6 separate regions of the Homo sapiens genome follow, and regions 1, 2, 3, 4 and 6 are each reported to be linked to region 5. The links are microRNA targets in miRTarBase. Many come from high-throughput screens and were not tested one by one. Region 5 holds a microRNA gene; each other region holds the end of a gene's coding sequence.
Evidence for each region. Region 5 holds the annotated microRNA hsa-miR-8052 (CGGGACUGUAGAGGGCAUGAGC, at 1,151-1,172, shown strand). A microRNA usually pairs through its seed, bases 2 to 8, with sites in the 3' UTR of a target mRNA and lowers its output. Matches are read on the target gene's strand: a 7mer-m8 pairs with bases 2 to 8, a 7mer-A1 pairs with bases 2 to 7 and ends in A, and an 8mer does both.

Region 1 (3,000 bases), not on the chromosome of region 5:
GGCAGGAGAAGCAGAAAACTAAAATTATAATTGGTTACTATCAAATTTATTCATTCAAGAAGGAGTGAAAACAAAGCAATTTTACACCTTCATATTAGACACAATCTTGGAAAACAGGTTTTAATATGGATATAGGAGGATGTTGCTAAGTGCCATCATCGAATATGAATATTAAAATAGGAATGTGAATATTAAAATTAGATGTTACTCTGTAATTCCAGTGCTTTGGGAGGCTGAGGAGGTAAGATCGCTTCTGGCCAGTAGTCTGAGACCAGCCTGGACAACATAGCAAAACCTCGTCTGCACAAAAAATGAAAAAACATTAGCTGGGCATGGTGGTACTTTCCTGTGGTCCAAGCTACTTGGGAGGCTGAGATGCGAGGATCCCTTGTGCCCAGGAGTTTGAGGTTACAGTGAGCTATGATCTTGCCACTGTATCCAGCTTCAGTGATCGAGTGATACCTTGTCTCAAAACAACAATAACAACAAAGGAAGGGGCGGCGCGGGCCAGGTATGGTGGCTCCCTCCTGTAATCCCAGTACTTTGGGAGGCCGAGGCGGGTAGATCACCTGAGGTCAAGAGTTTGAGACCAGCCTGGCCAACATGGTGAAACCCCATCTCTACTAAAAATACAAAATTAGCCAGGTGTGGTGGCGCATGCCTGTAGTCCCAGCTACTCAGGAGGCTAAGACAGGAGAATTGCTTGAAACCGGGAGGTGGAGGCTGTAGTGAGCCGAGATTGTGCCACTGCACTCCAGCCTGGGAGAGACAGAGCGAGACTCCATCTCAAAACAAAACAAAACAAAACTTCTGGAATAGCATTACTGTCATGTATTGTAAAGTACAGAAGCTTCACTAAAGTCACTCATTTTGACTTCTACGTAGTTGTTGGAGCAATTACACTAGAGTCAAGAACCCCAGTTAAAAGTAAACTCAATTTAAAATAACTTGGAAATATCCTCCTCTTAACCCTACCAGGGTGTCTGCAAGTAAACCTGAAACTACAGTGCATAGGTATTAGAAATGAGTATCTTTCTAGACGTTCAAATTGAAAACCAACCTTCATGTACAATATACTCAAATTCCAGTGAAAGAGCTAATGGAAGACTAGGGGTTTTACTTGCCTTCTTCTTAGTATCATCTTTTTGTTCCCTTATTAAATTTGCTTTAAAACCAAGGGGGTAACATCCTGGTTTTTTTTTTTTTTTTGAGATGGAGTCGCACTCTGTGGCCCAGGCTGGAGTGCAGTGGCGCCATCTCAGCTCACTGCAAGCTCCGCCTCCCAGGTTCACGCCATTCTCCTGCCTCAGCCTCCCGAGTAGCTGGGACTATGGGTGCCCGCCACCACGCATGGCCAATTTTTTTGTATTTTTTTAGTAGAGACGGGGTTTCACCGTGTTAGCCAGGATGGTCTCGATCTCCTGACCTCGTGATCTGCCCGCCTTGGCCTCCCAAAGTGCTGGGATTAAATTTTTTTTTTTTTTAATGTTGAACTAGGATATTTAAACAATCCCAGTGCTTTCTATCAGAATGTGAGCTCTCTGACGGGTGAGCCATAGTCCTACGTTGTGCTCCTTTTCTGCAAGAGCAGAGGTCCAAGAACAGGGCTAAAGACCTCAGTGGGAATGACTGTTCTTCATCACATTCTGGATTCACAGCCAAACAGGGTAGCTGTGCTGTCAACACACTTAACAAGGCAACTGGTCTTAACTTCCGGAACTATATCCAGGAGCCAGGCCATTGATAAAACAGTTCTTTAAAAATTCTTGCCTTTGGTTCAAAGTAGGGAGAAAAGGATAACTTCAGGAAGTTTTTTATAGCTTAAAATATTGAGTCTCAGAAAGTTATATATATTCATCTCAGCAGTCTGAACGCTTAGATGATCAATCTGCAAGTAATTGGAAATGTACAAAGAAGAAAAATTGCTGGGAAGTTTGTCCTGGTCCACACACCACCACCAAAATGTGACACAATTTTTTTTTTTTTGAGATGGAGTCTCACTCTGTCGACCAGGCTGGAGTGAAGTGACGTGATCTCAGCTCGCTGCAACCTCTGCCCCCTGGGTTTCAAGTGATTCTCCTGCCTCAGCCTCCCAAGTAGCTGGGATTACAGGCACACGTCCGGCTAATTTTTGTATTTTTAGTAGAGACAGGGTTTCGCCATGTTGGCCAGGCTGGTCTGGAACTCCTGACTTCACGTGATCCATCTGCCTCGGCCTCCCAAAGTGCTGGGATTACGGGCGTGAGCCACAGTGCCCAGCCAAAATGCGACACTTCTTCCCTGTCTAGCAGTGCAAGATCTTAAAGTCAGATTATAAAACAAGTTGTATTCTCACTTTATCATTTTTCTCTGCAGTTCTAGGGCAGGTTTATCTGAATTACTTAAGTCCTTCATAGTATAGTGAGCATAAAAGAGGACACAAGCCAAATGTATACTTAAATTAAATAGCATGATTTAATTTAGTTGGTGCTTAACCCTGAATCCTCTTAAGTTAAAAAAAAAGTTATAATTAACTATTAACGTTAATGAATTTAAACCTTCCAGAAAGCATGAATCCAAAAGGAAATGTCCAACAGGTGATATGAACCAGATATTTTATGGCCTTTCCTGTTTCAGTCTCAAACTTTCTAAACATCAATGGGGAAAAAAAATTCTCTAGAGTTTTTCAGTTTTATTCTTCTAGAGCACAATTTTCCGGCCTGTTACTGAGTACGGTCTTCTAACAGGTACACAATTAACTCATAAGTAGACAACACAATGGCAGTATTTGGGATCTGCCGGATAAGCTGGGCAAACAGTCCTCTATAAAAGGCAAGGTAGCCTTCTTCCCGGAACACCAGGCGCGCCGTCTGGACAAAAGACTTGTACTTGGTGCCCTCTTCCCGGAGCCTCGTCCTTATGACTTCTGCAGAGAGAGAAAGACCTACTTTACGCCACATATTAAATGGGGAACGAATCCACAGCACACAACTTTAAAACTGTCAAGGTTAGGCCGGGTGC
Region 2 (3,327 bases), not on the chromosome of region 5:
TCTCATAGCTCAAGCTTTCGAAGACACATGATAATGCACACTGGAGGTGGACCTCATAAATGCAAGATATGTGGGAAAGCTTTTGTTTATCCTAGTGTATGTCAAAGACACGAAAAGTCTCACAGTGGAGAGAAACCCTATGAATGCAAGCAGTGTGGGAAAGCGTTATCTCATAGCTCAAGCTTTCGAAGACATATGGTAATGCATACGGGAGATGGGCCGAATAAATGCAAGGTATGTGGGAAAGCCTTTGTTTATCCCAGTGTATGTCAAAGACATGAAAAGACTCACTGGAGAGAAACAATATGAATGTAAACTATTATAAAGCCTTCTATATTTCCAGTTCCCTTTGATATCATGAATAAACTTACACTGGACAGAAACCCTATAAATGTAAATGTGGGAAAGCCTTTCATAATTTTTATTCCTTTCAAAATCATGAAATATCTCACACTGGAGAGATGCTGTATGATATAAGGAATGTGGGAAAGTGATCGATTTTTTTTTAACACCATTGTCAACATAAAACAACTCACAGAGCAGAAAAACTCTGTGAGTGTAAAATATGTAGGGAAGCCTTCAGTCATTTTGGTAACTTAAAAGTACATGAGGCTGGGCACAGTGGCTCACGCCTGTAATCCCAGCACTTAGGGTGGGCAAATTGCTTGACCTCAGGAATTTGAGGCCTGCCTGGGCAAAATGGTGAAACCATGTCTCTACAAAAAATAGAAAAAGTAGCAGGTGTGGTGGTATGCCCCTGTAGTCCCAGCTACTTGGGAGGCTGAGGTGGGAAGATCTCTTGAGCCCAAGGGGTGGGGGTTGCAGTGAGCCAAGATGCACTGCACCCCAGCCTGGGCGACAGAGCCAGACCCTGTCTCAAAAAAAAAAAAAAAGTACATGAAAGGATTCACTCTGGAGAGAAGTCATATGAATGTAAGAAATGTAGAAAAGCATTGAGTTCTCTCAGGTCCTTGCATAGACATAAAAGGACTCACTGGAGAGATACTCTATAAATGTGTGAAATGTAGGGAAGTATTCTTTAATGTTATTTCATTTCAGATAGAAATAATTCTCATTGGAGATAAACCCTATGAATGTAAACACATAGTAAAGCCTTAATTTTAAGCCTCAGTTTCTTTCAAATACAGTTATCCCCTAATATTTGCAGGAGCGTGGTTCTACCACCCCCTGGGCATACATAAATCGACACATGCCAAGTCCTTTTTTAAAAATGACATATTTGGTACAAAATTACCCGGATGTGATGGCACATGCCTGTAATCCCAGCTACTCAGGAGGCTGAGGCAGGATAATCACTTGAATCCGGGAGGCGGAGGTTGCGGTGAGCCAAGATCGCGCCACTGCACTCCAGCCTGGGCAGCAAGAGCAAAACAACCTCTGTCACACACACAAAAAAAAAAAAAAAGGAAAGAAAGAAAAGACATATTTGGGTTAGACACAGTTGCTCACCTCTGTAATCCTAGCACCTTAGGAGCCCAAGACAGGTGGATCACTTGAGCCCAGGAGTTAGAGGCCAGCCTGGGTAATGTGGCAAAACCCTGTCTCTACAGAAGATACACAAATTAGCCAGGTGTGGTGACATGTACCTGTAGTCCCAGCTACTAGGGAAGCTGAGGTGGGAGGATCGCTTGAGCCTGGGAGGTTGAGGTTGCGGTGAGTCAAAATCACATCACTGCATTCTAGCATGGGCAACAGAATGAGACCCTGTCTCAAAAAAATAATAACAATAAAAAATATTTGCATGTAACCTACCCACATCCTCCTGTATACTCTAAATCATCTGTAGATTAGTTAAAATACATCATGCATCATAGAAGCTATGTAAATAGTTGTTATTATATTGTTTAGTGAATCATGATATGAGAAAGACCCTACACATATTCAGTACAGACCCACCCACATAATACATGTCACCTAGAGCATTATAAATCTTTTCTTTCAACACTCATAGATTGCTTTTGTTTAATGACCTGAAAATGTGTTAACATTCACCCAACAAAAGTGTAATGATGATTATTGCAATATCGTGCCTAATGTTGTGATGTGTTGAGTCAGCTAGATGTGTGACACCACAGATAAGCAGTGAGACCTCAGGCTAACTCGAATCTTGACAGGATGTCAACATGATCAACTATATTGGAAGAAACAGATTCTGACTGCAGATACTGAATTTTTGGAGCAGTCTAAATAATACTAATGTCAGAATCTGTTCAATTTGAGGACTGAAGATCTTTAAGCATTGAAGGCTGTCTTCATATTTGCAGATATTTAATTAGAAACATTGTAGGAAGCTAGTTTTTTTTTTTTTAAACTTTGCAACGTTTGTGAGCATGTAATCTCTGGGGTGACATGGAGGCTTTGTTCCATGGAAGAATCTTAATTGAGGATGATAATCTTTAACACTTGCGCCTTGTAGAAGCTGTAGGTGCCCTAAAACTGCTTCCAATTTTTCTTTTTTTTTCTTTTTCTTTTCTTTTTTTTTTTTTTTAAGACAAGATCTCACTCTGTCACCCTACAGTGCATGGCTCACTGCAGCCTCAACTTCCTGGGCTCAAGTGATCTTCCCACCTCAGCCTCCCAAGTAGCTGGGATTATAGGCACACATCACGATGCCTGGCTACTTTTTGTGTTTTTTGTGGAGACAAGGTTTCACCATGTTTCCCAGGCTGGTCTTGAACTCCTGGAATCAAGAGATCTGCCTGCCTTGGCCTCCCAAATTACTAGGATTACAGGGTGAGCCACCACACCCAGCCTTCAGATTTTTCAAGTATCAAAATCTATAGCACTGCTTCTTTTTTTTTTTTTCAGACAGAGTCTCACTCTGTCGCTGAGGCTGAAGTGCAGTGGTGCAATCTCAGCTCACTGCAGCCTCCACCTCCCAGGTTCAAGTGATCCTCCTGCATCAGCCACCTGAGGAGCTGGGATTACAATCTCAGCTCACTGCAACCTCCACCTCCCAAGTTCAAGTGATCCTCCTGCCTCAGCCACCCAAGTAGCTGGGAATACAGGCATGCACCACCATGCCCAGCTAATTTTTGTATTTTTAGTAGAGACAGGGTTTCGCCATGTTTGCCAAGCTGGTTTTGAACTCCCTGTGACTTCAAGTGATCTGCCTGCCTTGGCCTCTCAGAATGCTGGGATTACAGGCATGAGCCACCACTTATGGCACTGCCTCTTTATTTATTTATTGAGACTGAGTCTCACTCTGTCACCCAGGCTGGAGTGCAGTGGCACGATCTCGGCTCACTGCAAACACTGCCTCCTGGGTTCAAGCGATTCTCATGCCTCAGCCTCCCAAGTAGCTGG
Region 3 (3,000 bases), not on the chromosome of region 5:
AATGCGGCCTCTTCCTTCACTGGCTGTTGGTGACATCTGGAGCAGCTGCAGCTACCTTGGGACCATGAGGGGGGGTCCAGCCCCCAAACCTATCCTTGGCACAGCTAGGGGATGCGAGAACCTGGTTCCCTGAAGTCATCCTGCCTTGGGACATCTTGGTTTTTATCATAATTCATTTTTATTTATTCTTTTTTCTATTAGAGACAGGGCCTCATTCTGTCACCCAGCCTGGAGTGCAGTGGAGTGATAGATCATGGCTCACTGCAGCCTCAAACTCCAGGGCTCAAGGGATCCTCCCACACCAGCCTCCTAAGCAGCTGAGACTACAGGCACACACTACCATGCCCAGCTAATTTTTTTTCTTTTTCTGAGACGGGGTCTCGCTATGTTGCCCAGGCTGGTCTCAAACTCCTAAGCTCAAGTGATCCTCTTGCCTCAGCCTTCTTTTTTTCAGACAGAGTCTCGCTCTGTCACCCAGGCTGGAGTGCAGTGGCATGATCTCGGCTCACTGCAACCTCTGCCTCCTGGGTTCAAGCAATTCTCCTGCCTCAGCCTCCTGAGTAGCTGGGACTACAGGTGCCTGCCACCACGCCCAGCTAATTTTTTTAGTATTTTTAGTAGAGAAAGGGTTTCACCGTGTTAGCCGGGATGGTCTCCATCTCCTGACCTCGTGATCTATCCGCCTCTGCCTTCTAAAGTGCTGGGACTACAGGTGGAGCCACCATACCTGGTACATTCTTTTTTTTTTTTTTGAGATGGAATCTTGCTCTGGTACTCCGGTTGGAGTGCAGTGGTGCAATCTTGGCTCGCTGCAACCTCCGCCTCCCAGGATCAAGCAATTCTCTTGCCTCAGCCTCCCGAGTAGCTGGGATTACAAGTGCCCACCACCACACCCGGCTCATCTTTGTATTTTTAGTAGAGATGGGGTTTTGCCATGTTGACCAGGCTGGTCTTGAACTCCTGGCCTCAAGTGATCCCCCCTATCTTGGCCTTTCGAAGTGTTGGGATTACAGGCGTGAGCCACAGCACCTGGCCAAATTCATCTTTTAAAAGTTGCTTAATCCCGGCCAGGTGCAGTGGCTCACTCCTGTAATCCCAGCACTTTGGGAGGCTAAGGTGGGCAGATCATGATGTCAGGAGTTCAAGACCAGCCTGGCCAATATGGTGAAACCCCCATCACTACTAAAACAATGCAAAAATTAGAAGGCCGGGCGTGGTGGCAGGCAGCTGTAATCCCAGCTACTCGGGAGGCGGAGGCAGGAGAATCGCTTGATCCCAAAAGGCAGAGGTTGCAGTGAGCTGAGATTACACCACTGCCCTCCAGCCTGGGTGACAGAGTAAGACTCCATCTCAAAAAAAAAAAAAAAAAAAATTGCTTAATCCCAGGTTTGGGTTTTCTGTCCTTGTGGCTGAAGGGACCCTGAGTGAAGGCTGCAGACTCATCAGGGGCAGATGGAAAAATACCAGGATTGAGCCTCTCAGAAGTGATGCTTGAATCCAGTCTTCAAAGATGAGGACTCCGGCAGGTGACGTGGCAATAGCGTTTTGGAGGGACCAGTCCAGATACACAGGCATGGAGCCATGCATTTGTTCCAGAAAGTGTATTTGGATGGAACCGGAACATGGAACAGGACACACAGCAGGATGCGGAGCAGTGTCAGATGAGGCCAGAAAGGTGGGTGGGACTGGTCTTCAGGGGCTCCAGATGAGGCTGAGGGGCTGGGCCTAGGTCCTGGAGTGGGGTCAGCTCTGGGACCCTTCTGGGGCTGTGTGGGGAAGGGGCTGGGGGCCAAGAGGTCCAGGAGGAGGCTGGCGATGAGATGGCTGGAAGCCAGGGGTTCAGGGAGGCCCAGGCTCCTGGTATCAGGGTTCACCGGCTATACTGAGGATCCCCTGCCCCTGGCACCCAGCTGTGGAGGGGACACTGTCTTTGAGGCATCACTGGTTCCACAAAAGGTAGGGGAAGGTCTTGAGGGACCACCCCATGCCCTCATTAATCAACCAGAAGCTTGGCCCGGAGCAGCAGCGGGGATTCCAGTAGCTGTGGGCATACAGGATGCTAGGGCGGCCACAACCCAGGCAGCTGAGGCCGAGCCACCTAGGAACGCAGGCTCAGAGCAGACCCTCTTGGGACAGACGGAGAAGGGGAGGGGGCGGGCTTCTCTAAGTTAAGCCGATCACTGAGCACCTCACTGGACACGAGAGAAGGCAAGCCCCTCGGAGGACAGAAGGGAAGAGCCACAGACTTGGAGGCTGTGAAAGTGGAGACAGGTGGACCTGGGGTGGCAGCAATGCGTGAAATGCCAGGCCGTGCCCCCGCCCCAGGAGCCCAACATGACACCAGCCCCCAGGGAAGCTGACTGTGCCACTTCATCCAGCGCCCATCAGTCGCCTTGGAGCATCAGGAATCCTGAGGGCTGGGGTCCCGGAGGATCACAGATGCTGGGGCACCTCAACCTCAGGGAGCCGCTCGAGAAGTTTCTTTTCTGAAGTGTCCACCTCCTTCTGGTCACCGGCTGGAGCTGGGACAGGTACATCGTCTGGAAATGGAGGGAGGGAATGGTGGCACAGGACATCCGAACCCCTCCTCCCCCAGGACCCCAGAGGCCCAGCCCCTCCTCCCTCACACCCAGGGGTCCAGCCCCCAGCCCCTCCTCCCTCACACCCAGGGGTCCAGCCCCCAGCCCCTCCTCACTCACACCCAGGGGTCCCAGCCCCTCCTCCCTCACACCCAGGGGTCCCAGCCCCCAGCCCCTCCTCCCTCAGACCCAGGAGTCCGGACCCCCAGTCCCTCTTCCCTCAGATCTGGGAGTCTGGGCCCCCAGTCCCTCTTCCCTCAGATCTGGGAGTCCAGGCCCAGCCCCTCCAACCTCAGACCCAGGGGTCCAGCCCTGCAGCCCCTCCTCCCTGGACTAGGGCCAGCACCTGTGTCTGGGTGGAACTTGAGCTGCCCCTCAGGGTGGGCAGCCGGGGCCTTGTGGCCTTGCTGCTGCTGCTGCT
Region 4 (3,327 bases), not on the chromosome of region 5:
GGGTTGGCTGTGGCCTTCTGCTGTCTCCACTTTGATCTGCCCTGGTATCTCAGGATGCTAGGTCAATGCACACAAACATGGCACAGGGTTAGGAAAACAACCCAAGAACAACTCAAGAGAAATGTCCGATTCCACGCATTTATTTCATACAGTGAACATGATTCTCTGTGGGTGAAGAATGAATTGATCCCCAATCTAGAGAAGGAAGATGGTTCTATCTTGATTTGCCTTTATGAAAGCTACTTTGACCCTGGCAAAAGCATTAGTGAAAATATTGTAAGCTTCATTGAGAAAAGCTATAAGTCCATCTTTGTTTTGTCTCCCAACTTTGTCCAGAATGAGTGGTGCCATTATGAATTCTACTTTGCCCACCACAATCTCTTCCATGAAAATTCTGATCATATAATTCTTATCTTACTGGAACCCATTCCATTCTATTGCATTCCCACCAGGTATCATAAACTGAAAGCTCTCCTGGAAAAAAAAGCATACTTGGAATGGCCCAAGGATAGGCGTAAATGTGGGCTTTTCTGGGCAAACCTTCGAGCTGCTATTAATGTTAATGTATTAGCCACCAGAGAAATGTATGAACTGCAGACATTCACAGAGTTAAATGAAGAGTCTCGAGGTTCTACAATCTCTCTGATGAGAACAGATTGTCTATAAAATCCCACAGTCCTTGGGAAGTTGGGGACCACATACACTGTTGGGATGTACATTGATACAACCTTTATGATGGCAATTTGACAATATTTATTAAAATAAAAAATGGTTATTCCCTTCATATCAGTTTCTAGAAGGATTTCTAAGAATGTATCCTATAGAAACACCTTCACAAGTTTATAAGGGCTTATGGAAAAAGGTGTTCATCCCAGGATTGTTTATAATCATGAAAAATGTGGCCAGGTGCAGTGGCTCACTCTTGTAATCCCAGCACTATGGGAGGCCAAGGTGGGTGACCCACGAGGTCAAGAGATGGAGACCATCCTGGCCAACATGGTGAAACCCTGTCTCTACTAAAAATACAAAAATTAGCTGGGCGTGATGGTGCACGCCTGTAGTCCCAGCTACTTGGGAGGCTGAGGCAGGAGAATCGCTTGAACCCGGGAGGTGGCAGTTGCAGTGAGCTGAGATCGAGCCACTGCACTCCAGCCTGGTGACAGAGCGAGACTCCATCTCAAAAAAAAGAAAAAAAAAAAAGAAAAAAATGGAAAACATCCTCATGGCCACAAAATAAGGTCTAATTCAATAAATTATAGTACATTAATGTAATATAATATTACATGCCACTAAAAAGAATAAGGTAGCTGTATATTTCCTGGTATGGAAAAAACATATTAATATGTTATAAACTATTAGGTTGGTGCAAAACTAATTGTGGTTTTTGCCATTGAAATGGCATTGAAATAAAAGTGTAAAGAAATCTATACCAGATGTAGTAACAGTGGTTTGGGTCTGGGAGGTTGGATTACAGGGAGCATTTGATTTCTATGTTGTGTATTTCTATAATGTTTGAATTGTTTAGAATGAATCTGTATTTCTTTTATAAGTAGAAAAAAAATAAAGATAGTTTTTACAGCCTACACATCCTACTCATTTGGCTTGATTCTTCTTTCTGGTCTCACAGGTCACAGGAAGAAAAGCACTCCTGAAATATAATTTTTGCAAAATTATATTTCAAAAATGACAATTTTGCAAAATTATATTTCAAAAACAAACATCATGTCACTTCTCTGGTTAGAAAAAAATTTTGTGGCTTAAACACATGATTCAGGGAGAGAATGTCATGCTCCTTTAAGATCTGACAGCAATCTCCTTTTATATCCTTGCATCTTCTTTATTTTTAATTTTTAGAGACTAGCTCTTGCTCTGTCACCCAGGCTGGAATGCAGTGGTGCGATCATAGCTCACTGCAGTATTGAGCTCCTGGCCTCAAATGATCCTCCTGTCTTGGACTCCCGAAGTGCTGGGATTACAGGTGTGAGCCACCACACCCAGCCCCTCCTTGCATCCTATCATTGGGCCCTATGGAGCTACTGGCCCTTCCCCAGAACTTTCAGTGTTCTTTCATGGCTCCAGAGCCCAGATTTCACATCATGCCTGCTGTAATGCCTTCCCTACTTGGGTTTGTTCAGGAAATCTTACAGTTCTCTCAGGACACAATCCACATATCGACTCTTCTTTGAAATCATCCTCACTCTTTCCCGTAAGCATGATGCTTCTTGATTCTCTTCCACACTTTGGACATATTTCTATCACCAACCTAATTATGTACATTTTTAAAGTTTCAATTTCCCACTAGACTATGAACTCCTCAAAGGCTAAGACAGACTTACATCTGCCCTTGTGTCTGCAGCAGTCCCTGGTTCAGAACTGGTGCTCAAAGAATGTTTATGGAATGGATGTTGGGTTGGCTAGAGGAGCTTAGTGGGAACTCAACTGGCTTAAGGATAGATGGTGGAATTTAAAGGCATATTCTGAGAAGCTCAGGAAGAGCAGGAATAGGTAAAACTCAGGTAAGAAGACAGAGAATCCAGAATTGTAGGATTCCTAAGTAGAGCTCACGTCATGTGAAATTGCCAAAATTTGGTTGCTCTCGACCTAGAAAAGCATCTACTTTTAAAAATCTCATTCCATCTGTATTAGGGTTCTCTAGAGGGACAGAACTAATAGGATATATATATATATATATATATCACACAATACTATATCTATATCTATATCTATATCTATATATATATATTGCAAGGTCTATTGTGGGACCTTGTAATTGTGTGGGTCAACACTCCTTAATAAACTCCTATATATATAGGAGGTACATATATATATAAAATAGGATATTACATATAGGATATATATATAAAATAGGATATATATATAAAATAGGATATATATATAATAGGATATATATAGGAGCTATATAGGATATATATACAAATATATATAAAGTATATATAAATATATATACTTTATATATATAATAGGATATTATATATATATAGGATATATATAATAGGATATTATATATATATAGGATATATATAATAGGATATTATATATATAGGATATATATAATAGGAGATATATATATAATAGGAGATATATATATATAATAGGAGATATATATATATATGAGCTTATTAAGGAGTATTGACACACACAATTACAAGGTCCCACGGTAGACCATCTGCAAGCTGAGGAGCAAGGAAGCCAGTCCAAGTCCCAAAGCTGAAGAACTTGGAGTGCAATGTTTGAGGGCAGGAAGCATCCAGCATGGGTGAAAGATGTAGGCTGGGAGGCTAGCCCAGTCAAGTTTCGTCATGTTCT
Region 5 (3,327 bases):
CGTCAGGTAGGGATATCATCCAATTAGATCCCAAGCCCTCAGGACAGGGGCTCTTCAAAGTTGCCATTCAGTAAGTTCTGGAAGATAGCTGAGATGTCACATGGGCCAAATGGCTTTCTTGTGCATTCAAAATGAGTTGAGCACATTTAGAAGCCCATCCTCCACTCATCATTTTTCTAGAGACAAAGTTGTGGGTGCCTCTGAGCATGAATTTCATAAAGGCTCATCCTGCACAGAGCTGGTTCAAGAGATTGTAGGAAGAGGTGGTGGTAAAGAATGATGACTATCTTGAGATCTGAATATGCCTGGAAGAGGCAACTTCTTTTGTCCCTCCAACTTAAAAAAAATTACGAAGTTCACTGGGGCTTATACAGGGAGAAGGAGGATCTGCGGAGGTCCCCGCTCCAGTGTGATTTTAATATATTGGTGTAGGTGCAGAGCTTGTGGAATGCGTCAATCTCACAGCCATACACATCATGTGAGGATATGTAGTTCTTCCTCCTCTTCCTGTCCCTCCTCGTCTTCCTTTTCCTCCCCCTCCTCCTCCTCCTCTTCCTTTTCCTCTTTTTCTTTCTCTTTCTCTTCTTCCTCCTCCTTCTTCATCTGAAACTATTCTTATAGGCAATCTGATGGTAGACATCTCATGGGAAACAGTGGACAGTGTTATTAAAGAGACTTATGGGTCATAGCCATCTGTGTGATTAGGGATACCATGGCTGGCGAATAATGGCTAATGGAAGCTTCTCCAGCCCTCACCTTGTGGCTTGAAGCAGATTCTTCCTCAACAGTGGGTATAAATGCCTAGTTTATTTTCTGGAGTCCCCTTGGACTGGGTGGGTGGGGATCCAGCCAAGCTAAATCAGGACTGGAACTATGACTTCTTTAAGTTTTACTACACTGATATAGAGTCAGAAACTAATGATCCTGACCTTCTCTGGGATGCAGAAAACCCTTCCTGTGGCCAACAAATTAGGTACAATGCAGGCAGGAGCAGCTTCCCTGGCAATTGGGTTGTATCTCATTGGATATGGCAACTTTGGATAGAGTGGCCTATTATTATTCTGTGGGACAGGCACAACTGGGCATCTGTGGGTAATGAAGGAGGGTGCCAGCCGTAGGAGATCCCTTGTCTCCCTGGTCTGGAGGGCTGCGGGACTGTAGAGGGCATGAGCTCAGGAGCTCAGGCCAGCTCATGGTGCAAGGCCTCTGGAAGCCTTCTCAAAATGGTATCTGATTTAATTAAGACTCTGGCTGAGAATCCAGAGTGCCAGGGCTTGGTGGGCCACACATCCTCTCTTGCAGCCTGTGTGTGGCTTTTCTGGCCACCTCCAGGCTGTCAGGGAGTGCTGTTAGACTTTTAGCCGCAGCCTGCCATCTGGAGGAAAGGAATTGGCCACTTTTCTGCATTTCCTGCCATAAATGGGAAAAAGTATGACAGAATTTTGAGGTTTTTTTTCTACCCTCATGGGGTAGAATGTTTTAATTTTGAATACTTGCACCTCATTCTACAAAGAATCTGAGGTGGCTTATACAAATGCACACAATACAAATGAGTGGAAATAAATAATTGAATGAGTCAGAGTGATGGGAAATACAGTGAGTAAAAGGAAGCCAAGGGTAATTTATTACCCCAAAATGCACACTCCATGGTCCTTGGTGTGTCCTGTGGTTGGGCCATATATTTCCACCTAGGGAGGAAGTTAAAGTCCTAAAATTTTGGTAAAAGCAATTTTAACAAAAGAGTAAACTCATGCAGTCCTTAAATCCAGAAGTCTGTCTTAATTAGGATGAAAAAAATTGTAACTCTAAGTGCGATTTTTTTCATTTTTTGTATTAATTTTAGTATGCTATTTGAGACTATTTATAATATGTGTAAGTTACAAAATATAGTATGATGAACATTTCTGAACCCAGCAGTCAAGCAAAGGACAAGTCCATTCCCAGTAACTCGTATCCACCCTCACTTCTGCTCCTAACCTCCTTCTGTGTCCTGCTTTTCTTTTCCGCACAGAGAGAACCACTATCCTGAATTTTAGAATTATTCTTTTGATTTTTTGTTTTGTTTTATCCCAAATGCATGCATATGTAAATAATATTTTGCCCAGTTTTGCTTATTTTTAGGTTTATTAAAATAATATCTATTAGGTTGATGCAAACGTAATGAGGTTTTTGCAATTACGTTCGCACCAACTGAATAAATCAAAGTCTTCTGGGTTCTTTCCTTTTCCATTCAACATCATGTTTCTAAGATTCCTTAATGTTCTCACACATGTGTGCAATTCATTTTTTTCTACTGCTTTATTATGATACTTTTCATGGATACATTGCCCCTTATCCATTCTCTGCTGTTGACTCTTTAGGTTGCCTTTAGTATTGTACTATTATGAACAAAGGTCCTGAAGTCACTTTTGAATATGTCTCCTGGTGCACATATTCAAGAGTTTCTCTAGGGTGGATACCTAGGAGTAGAATTATGTGGTATGCTTCACAAGATAATGCTGAAATGTTTTCCAAAGCAATTATACAATCTCACCAGTAAAGTATAAACCTTTTCAAATCCTTATTTGACATTGTCAGATATTAATTTTTGTCAATCTAGTGGCATAAAAACTATCTCATTGTGGAAATGCAATTGCGTACCCTTGACTAGTAGGGCAGTGAAGAATCTTTTCATGCTTTTTTTTATGGTTTTCTTCTTGTGTGAAATATTTTAAAAATGTATTTTGCACATTTTATTGGGTTTATTGTCATTTTCTTATTGATTCATGACAATCTTTTAGATATCTTCTCTTAGGCCAACGTTTCATTCTGTATCTCAGGCAGGCCATTTTATTTATTGTAATGGCTTGAATTTCTTTCTGTGTATTGATTACTCACAAATCTAAGTATTCAGCCCAAGATGTTCTTCTGAGCATCACACACATGAATCCAACCAGACACTCAACACCTTTATGTGAATGTCTCACAAGATTGTGAGGCTCAATATGTCCAAAATTGAGTTCAGCATCTTTCCACCCAGGCTGAATTCCTCCATTTTGTCTTCTATCTTAGAGGAATCACCACCAAAAACTCAGGTATCCAAGCTACAAACTTAAGTGTGGTTTTTGACTCTAGCTTCTCCTTTATATGTGATGTCCAATCAATAACCAGGTTCTATGGATAGTAATTTCTAAATGTCCCTTGAGTCTATTCTTGTCTCTGAATCCCCAATGCTGTTCCTTTATTCAATAATCACAGGCACCCCAAATTGCTTCAGGACCCTCCTAGTTGGACTTCTGGTCTGCAGTCAGCATACTGGAGCCGTGGAGATAGCTTTTTAAAACATGC
Region 6 (3,327 bases), not on the chromosome of region 5:
TGCCATTTATGAATCTCTTGGTTTCTCTCTGTCTCTGTCCCTCCACTTTTCTCTCCTTTGCTGGTGTGTGCATTCCCTCTGACGCCCTGGCTCTCACTCTTTCATTCTGTTTTTTATTCTGGCTCCCTCTGTCTTTGTGTTTTTTTTTTTAATTTTCTTTTTTTGAGGTGGGGTCTTGCACTGTCACCCAGGCTGGAGTGCAGTGGTGCGATCTCAGCTCACTGCAACCTCTTCTTCCTGGGCTCAGGCAATCCTCTCACCTCAGCCTCCCAAGTAGCTGGGACTACAGGCTCGTGACACCACATCTAGCTAATTTGTTTTGTATTTTTGGTAGAGACAGAGTTTCACCATGTTGCTCAGGCTGGTCTCGAACTCCTGAGCTCAAGTGATCCACCTGCCTCGGCCTCCCAAAGTGCTGGGATTACAGGCATGAGCCACTGTGCCCGGCCATGGCTCCCTCTGTCTTTGTACGCCTGTCCCTTTGCTGTCCCTCTCCTCCACAGGACAGCATTGGCATGGCCACCTCCCTCAGCCCTCTTCATTTCCCTTGCAGCTGCATCAACAGAGAGTGGCCGCAGCAGCAGGTGACCCATTAACTGAGGAACTGGCTGCCACTGAACACCTGGAACTCCTTGTGGGAAGAAGTTTGCACCTCGGCCCTGGCTGCCCACCATCAGTGCCCCGCAGTCAGCAGCCATTCCTGGCAGTGAACTCTGCCAGGACTGAAGCTGTGGCTTTATCCATCAGCTCCCTGGGCCTTCCCCGCAACCCACCTCGGGGATCTGAGGATCTGGTGCATAGATGAACATCTATCCCCTCCTCCCCCATACACACCTAGGCTTGAAATGCCCTACAGGCCCAGAACTTTCTCACATCTGAAATGGAGGCATTGCAATGAAAAGGCACCCACAGCATCATGCAAGTGGCATCTTGTAAAAAAAAAAAAAAAGTTTAATCTGAATCTAACCATGAGGAAATAATCAGACAAATCCACATTAGGGGCATTCTGCTAAACATCTGACCCAGACTCTTCAAAAATGAAGAGTGAAAGATAAAGTAGTCAATGGCCGGGCGCAGTGAGATTGCGCCATTGCATTCCAGCCTGGGTGACAGAGCGAGACTCCGTATCAGAAAGAAAAAGAGGAACTGAATGAAATCTCAGATGGCTGAAATGTTAGAGAAACAGAGCACCAAGTCCCCTGCTCTGTGACTCGTTGTTCCTTTCCTCTGTCTTCAAGCACCACGCAGAAATACACTGGATGTTCTCTCTTTGCTTCAATGGAGACCCAAGGAGCTGGGAGGTCTCTTAAGAGACTCTCTGATTCTCCGTGGCTGGGTGTGATGGCTCATGCCCATAATCCCAGCCCTTTGGGAAGCTGAGGCAGGAGGATTGAGACCAGGAGTTCGAGAAGAGCCTGGGCAACATAGTGAGACCCCATCTCTACAAAGAAAAAAAAATTAGCTGGACATGGTAATGAATGCCTGTAGTCCCAGCTACTCCGGACACTGATGTGAGAGGATCACTTGAGCCAGGGAGGTCATGGCTACAGTGACCCCTCATTGCACCACTTTACTTAGCCTGGGTGACAGAGTGAGACCCTATCTCAAAAAAAAAAAAAATCTATGCATTGTATGGGACTTTCCTTTGGATCCCCCAATCAAAGGATAAGCAATGCGTAAGCCTGTGTCCTTCCTGAAGCTTCTCGACTGCCCAGATAGGGAGGTGAGTCCTCTCTATCTCCTCTGGCTCTGGAAGCACCTTGAAAATGTGCATTTTCAAGGACACTTGCTGGGTTGTGCATTAAGGGCCAGTTTACTTGTCTGCCTCTTTGACCACCTGTGAACTCTGTTGGGTGTACTCTGCTAAGTTCTGGGGATGAGGAAATTAATAAAGGTACAGTCTTGCCTTCAAGGAACTTATGGTCTAGAGGAGAAGAACGAGAAGTATAGATAGGCAGTAACAAAGCTACTTGAAGAGGCCAACTGGGATTCTAAGGGTGGGAAAGAACAGACACAAGAGATAAAGTCCTAATGAAATGGAGTGCTTGGTTTTGGATGATTCCTTCCTCAAGGAAGAGTATGCTTCTATACTCTTATATTAAATCCCTTTTTCCCTTTTTGGCTTGTTAGTGCAAGGAAGTTTCTATTACTTGAATCAGTCCTGACAGATAAAGTTCTCTAAAAGAGATGATACCTATGCTGAATCCTGAAGAAAGAGTAGAAGATAGTTGGGTTGGGGTGGGAGGAGGCAGAGAAAGAAGCATGTGTAAAGGCTCAGAGATATCAGGTGTGCACGTGCCTGTAGTCCTAGCTACTGGGGAGGGTGAGGTGGGAAGATCATTTGAGCCCAGGAGTTCTGGGCTTTAGTGCACAATGCTAATTGGGTGTCCACACTAAATTTGGCATCAACATGGTGACCTCCCAGGAGTGAGGAATCACCAGTTTGCCTAAGGAGGGGTGAACTGGCCCAGATCAGAAATGAAGCACTTCCGTGCTGGTCAGTAGAGGGATCATGCCTGTGAACAGCCATTGCACTGCAGCCTGGGCGACAAGAGGGAAACTCCGTCTAAAAAAAGAAAATAGCTAGGCATGGGCACTGTAATGCATGCCTGTAGTCCCAGCTACTCAGGAGGCAGAGGTGGGAGGCTTGCTTGGGCCTGGGGGGTTATGCACTCCAGCCTGGGTGACAGAGTGAGACTCCGTCTCCAAAAAAAAAAAAAAGAAAAAGAAAAGAAAATTTGAATCACACTTCACTTGTATTAGCGTTCTCCAGAGAAACAGAACCAATGATATACATATATATATATATGGCTATAGAAAGAAATTTATTGGCCGGGCACGGTGGCTCACGCCTATAATCCTAGCACTTTGGGAGGCCGAGGCAGGCAGATCATGAGGTCAGGAGATCAAGACCATCCTGGCCAACATGGTGAAACCCCGTCTCTACTAAAAATACAAAAATTAGCTGACTGTGGTGGCACGTGCCTGTAGTCCCAGCTACTCAGGAAGCTGAGGCAGGAGAATCGCTTGAACCCGGCAGGCGGAGGTTGCAGTGAACCAAGATTGCGCCACTGCACTCCAGCCTGGCGACAGAGTGAGACTCCGTCTCAAAAAAAGAAAAAGAAAAAGAAAAAAAAAAAAGCCAGGCATGGTGGCATGTGCCTGTAGTCCCAGCTACTCAAGGCTGAACTCCCACTTAAGCCTGAGATTTCAAGACTGCAGTGAGCTATGGTCTCACCACTGCACTCCAGCCTGGGTGACAGAGTGAGACTCTGCTTCAGCAAAGAACAGTTATGTCACACCCCAAAACTCCCTTGTAGCCACACC

Region 1: miRTarBase lists SLC25A33 as a target of hsa-miR-8052. Seed matches in the 3' UTR shown: 7mer-A1 at 1,324-1,330.
Region 2: miRTarBase lists ZNF563 as a target of hsa-miR-8052. Seed matches in the 3' UTR shown: 7mer-A1 at 762-768.
Region 3: the mRNA of NUCB1 is a reported target of hsa-miR-8052. Seed matches in the 3' UTR shown: 8mer at 1,681-1,688.
Region 4: miRTarBase lists TLR10 as a target of hsa-miR-8052. Seed matches in the 3' UTR shown: 7mer-A1 at 1,060-1,066.
Region 6: the mRNA of ADAP2 is a reported target of hsa-miR-8052. Seed matches in the 3' UTR shown: 7mer-A1 at 1,487-1,493.

What each region holds. Positions count from the first base shown.
Region 1 is chr1:9,582,204-9,585,203 of GRCh38, reverse strand. SLC25A33 (solute carrier family 25 member 33) reads right to left here. Exons shown (of 7, transcript NM_032315.3): 7 at 31-2,905. The coding sequence ends at 2,703. Among named protein-coding and RNA genes, the nearest start is that of TMEM201, 5.2 kb to the left of the region's middle.
Region 2 is chr19:12,315,576-12,318,902 of GRCh38, reverse strand. ZNF563 (zinc finger protein 563) reads left to right here. Exons shown (of 4, transcript NM_145276.3): 4 at 1-1,426. The coding sequence ends at 309. Among named protein-coding and RNA genes, the nearest start is that of ZNF563, 16 kb to the left of the region's middle.
Region 3 is chr19:48,921,858-48,924,857 of GRCh38, reverse strand. NUCB1 (nucleobindin 1) reads right to left here. Exons shown (of 13, transcript NM_006184.6): 12 at 2,926-3,000; 13 at 1,486-2,540. The coding sequence ends at 2,434. Among named protein-coding and RNA genes, the nearest start is that of NUCB1-AS1, 4.5 kb to the right of the region's middle. RefSeq lists an enhancer at 1,623-2,122.
Region 4 is chr4:38,770,494-38,773,820 of GRCh38, reverse strand. It overlaps TLR10 (toll like receptor 10), which reads left to right. Exons shown (of 4, transcript NM_030956.4): 4 at 1-1,583. The coding sequence ends at 666. Among named protein-coding and RNA genes, the nearest start is that of TLR10, 11 kb to the left of the region's middle.
Region 5 is chr11:130,665,595-130,668,921 of GRCh38, forward strand. It overlaps MIR8052 (microRNA 8052), which reads left to right and starts at 1,141; the gene lies at 1,141-1,209.
Region 6 is chr17:30,957,282-30,960,608 of GRCh38, forward strand. It overlaps ADAP2 (ArfGAP with dual PH domains 2), which reads left to right. Exons shown (of 11, transcript NM_018404.3): 11 at 554-2,041. The coding sequence ends at 588. It also overlaps a transcript of RNF135 not described here and the pseudogene RN7SL138P. Among named protein-coding and RNA genes, the nearest start is that of RNF135, 12 kb to the right of the region's middle. RefSeq lists an enhancer at 566-1,065 and a silencer at 3,192-3,241.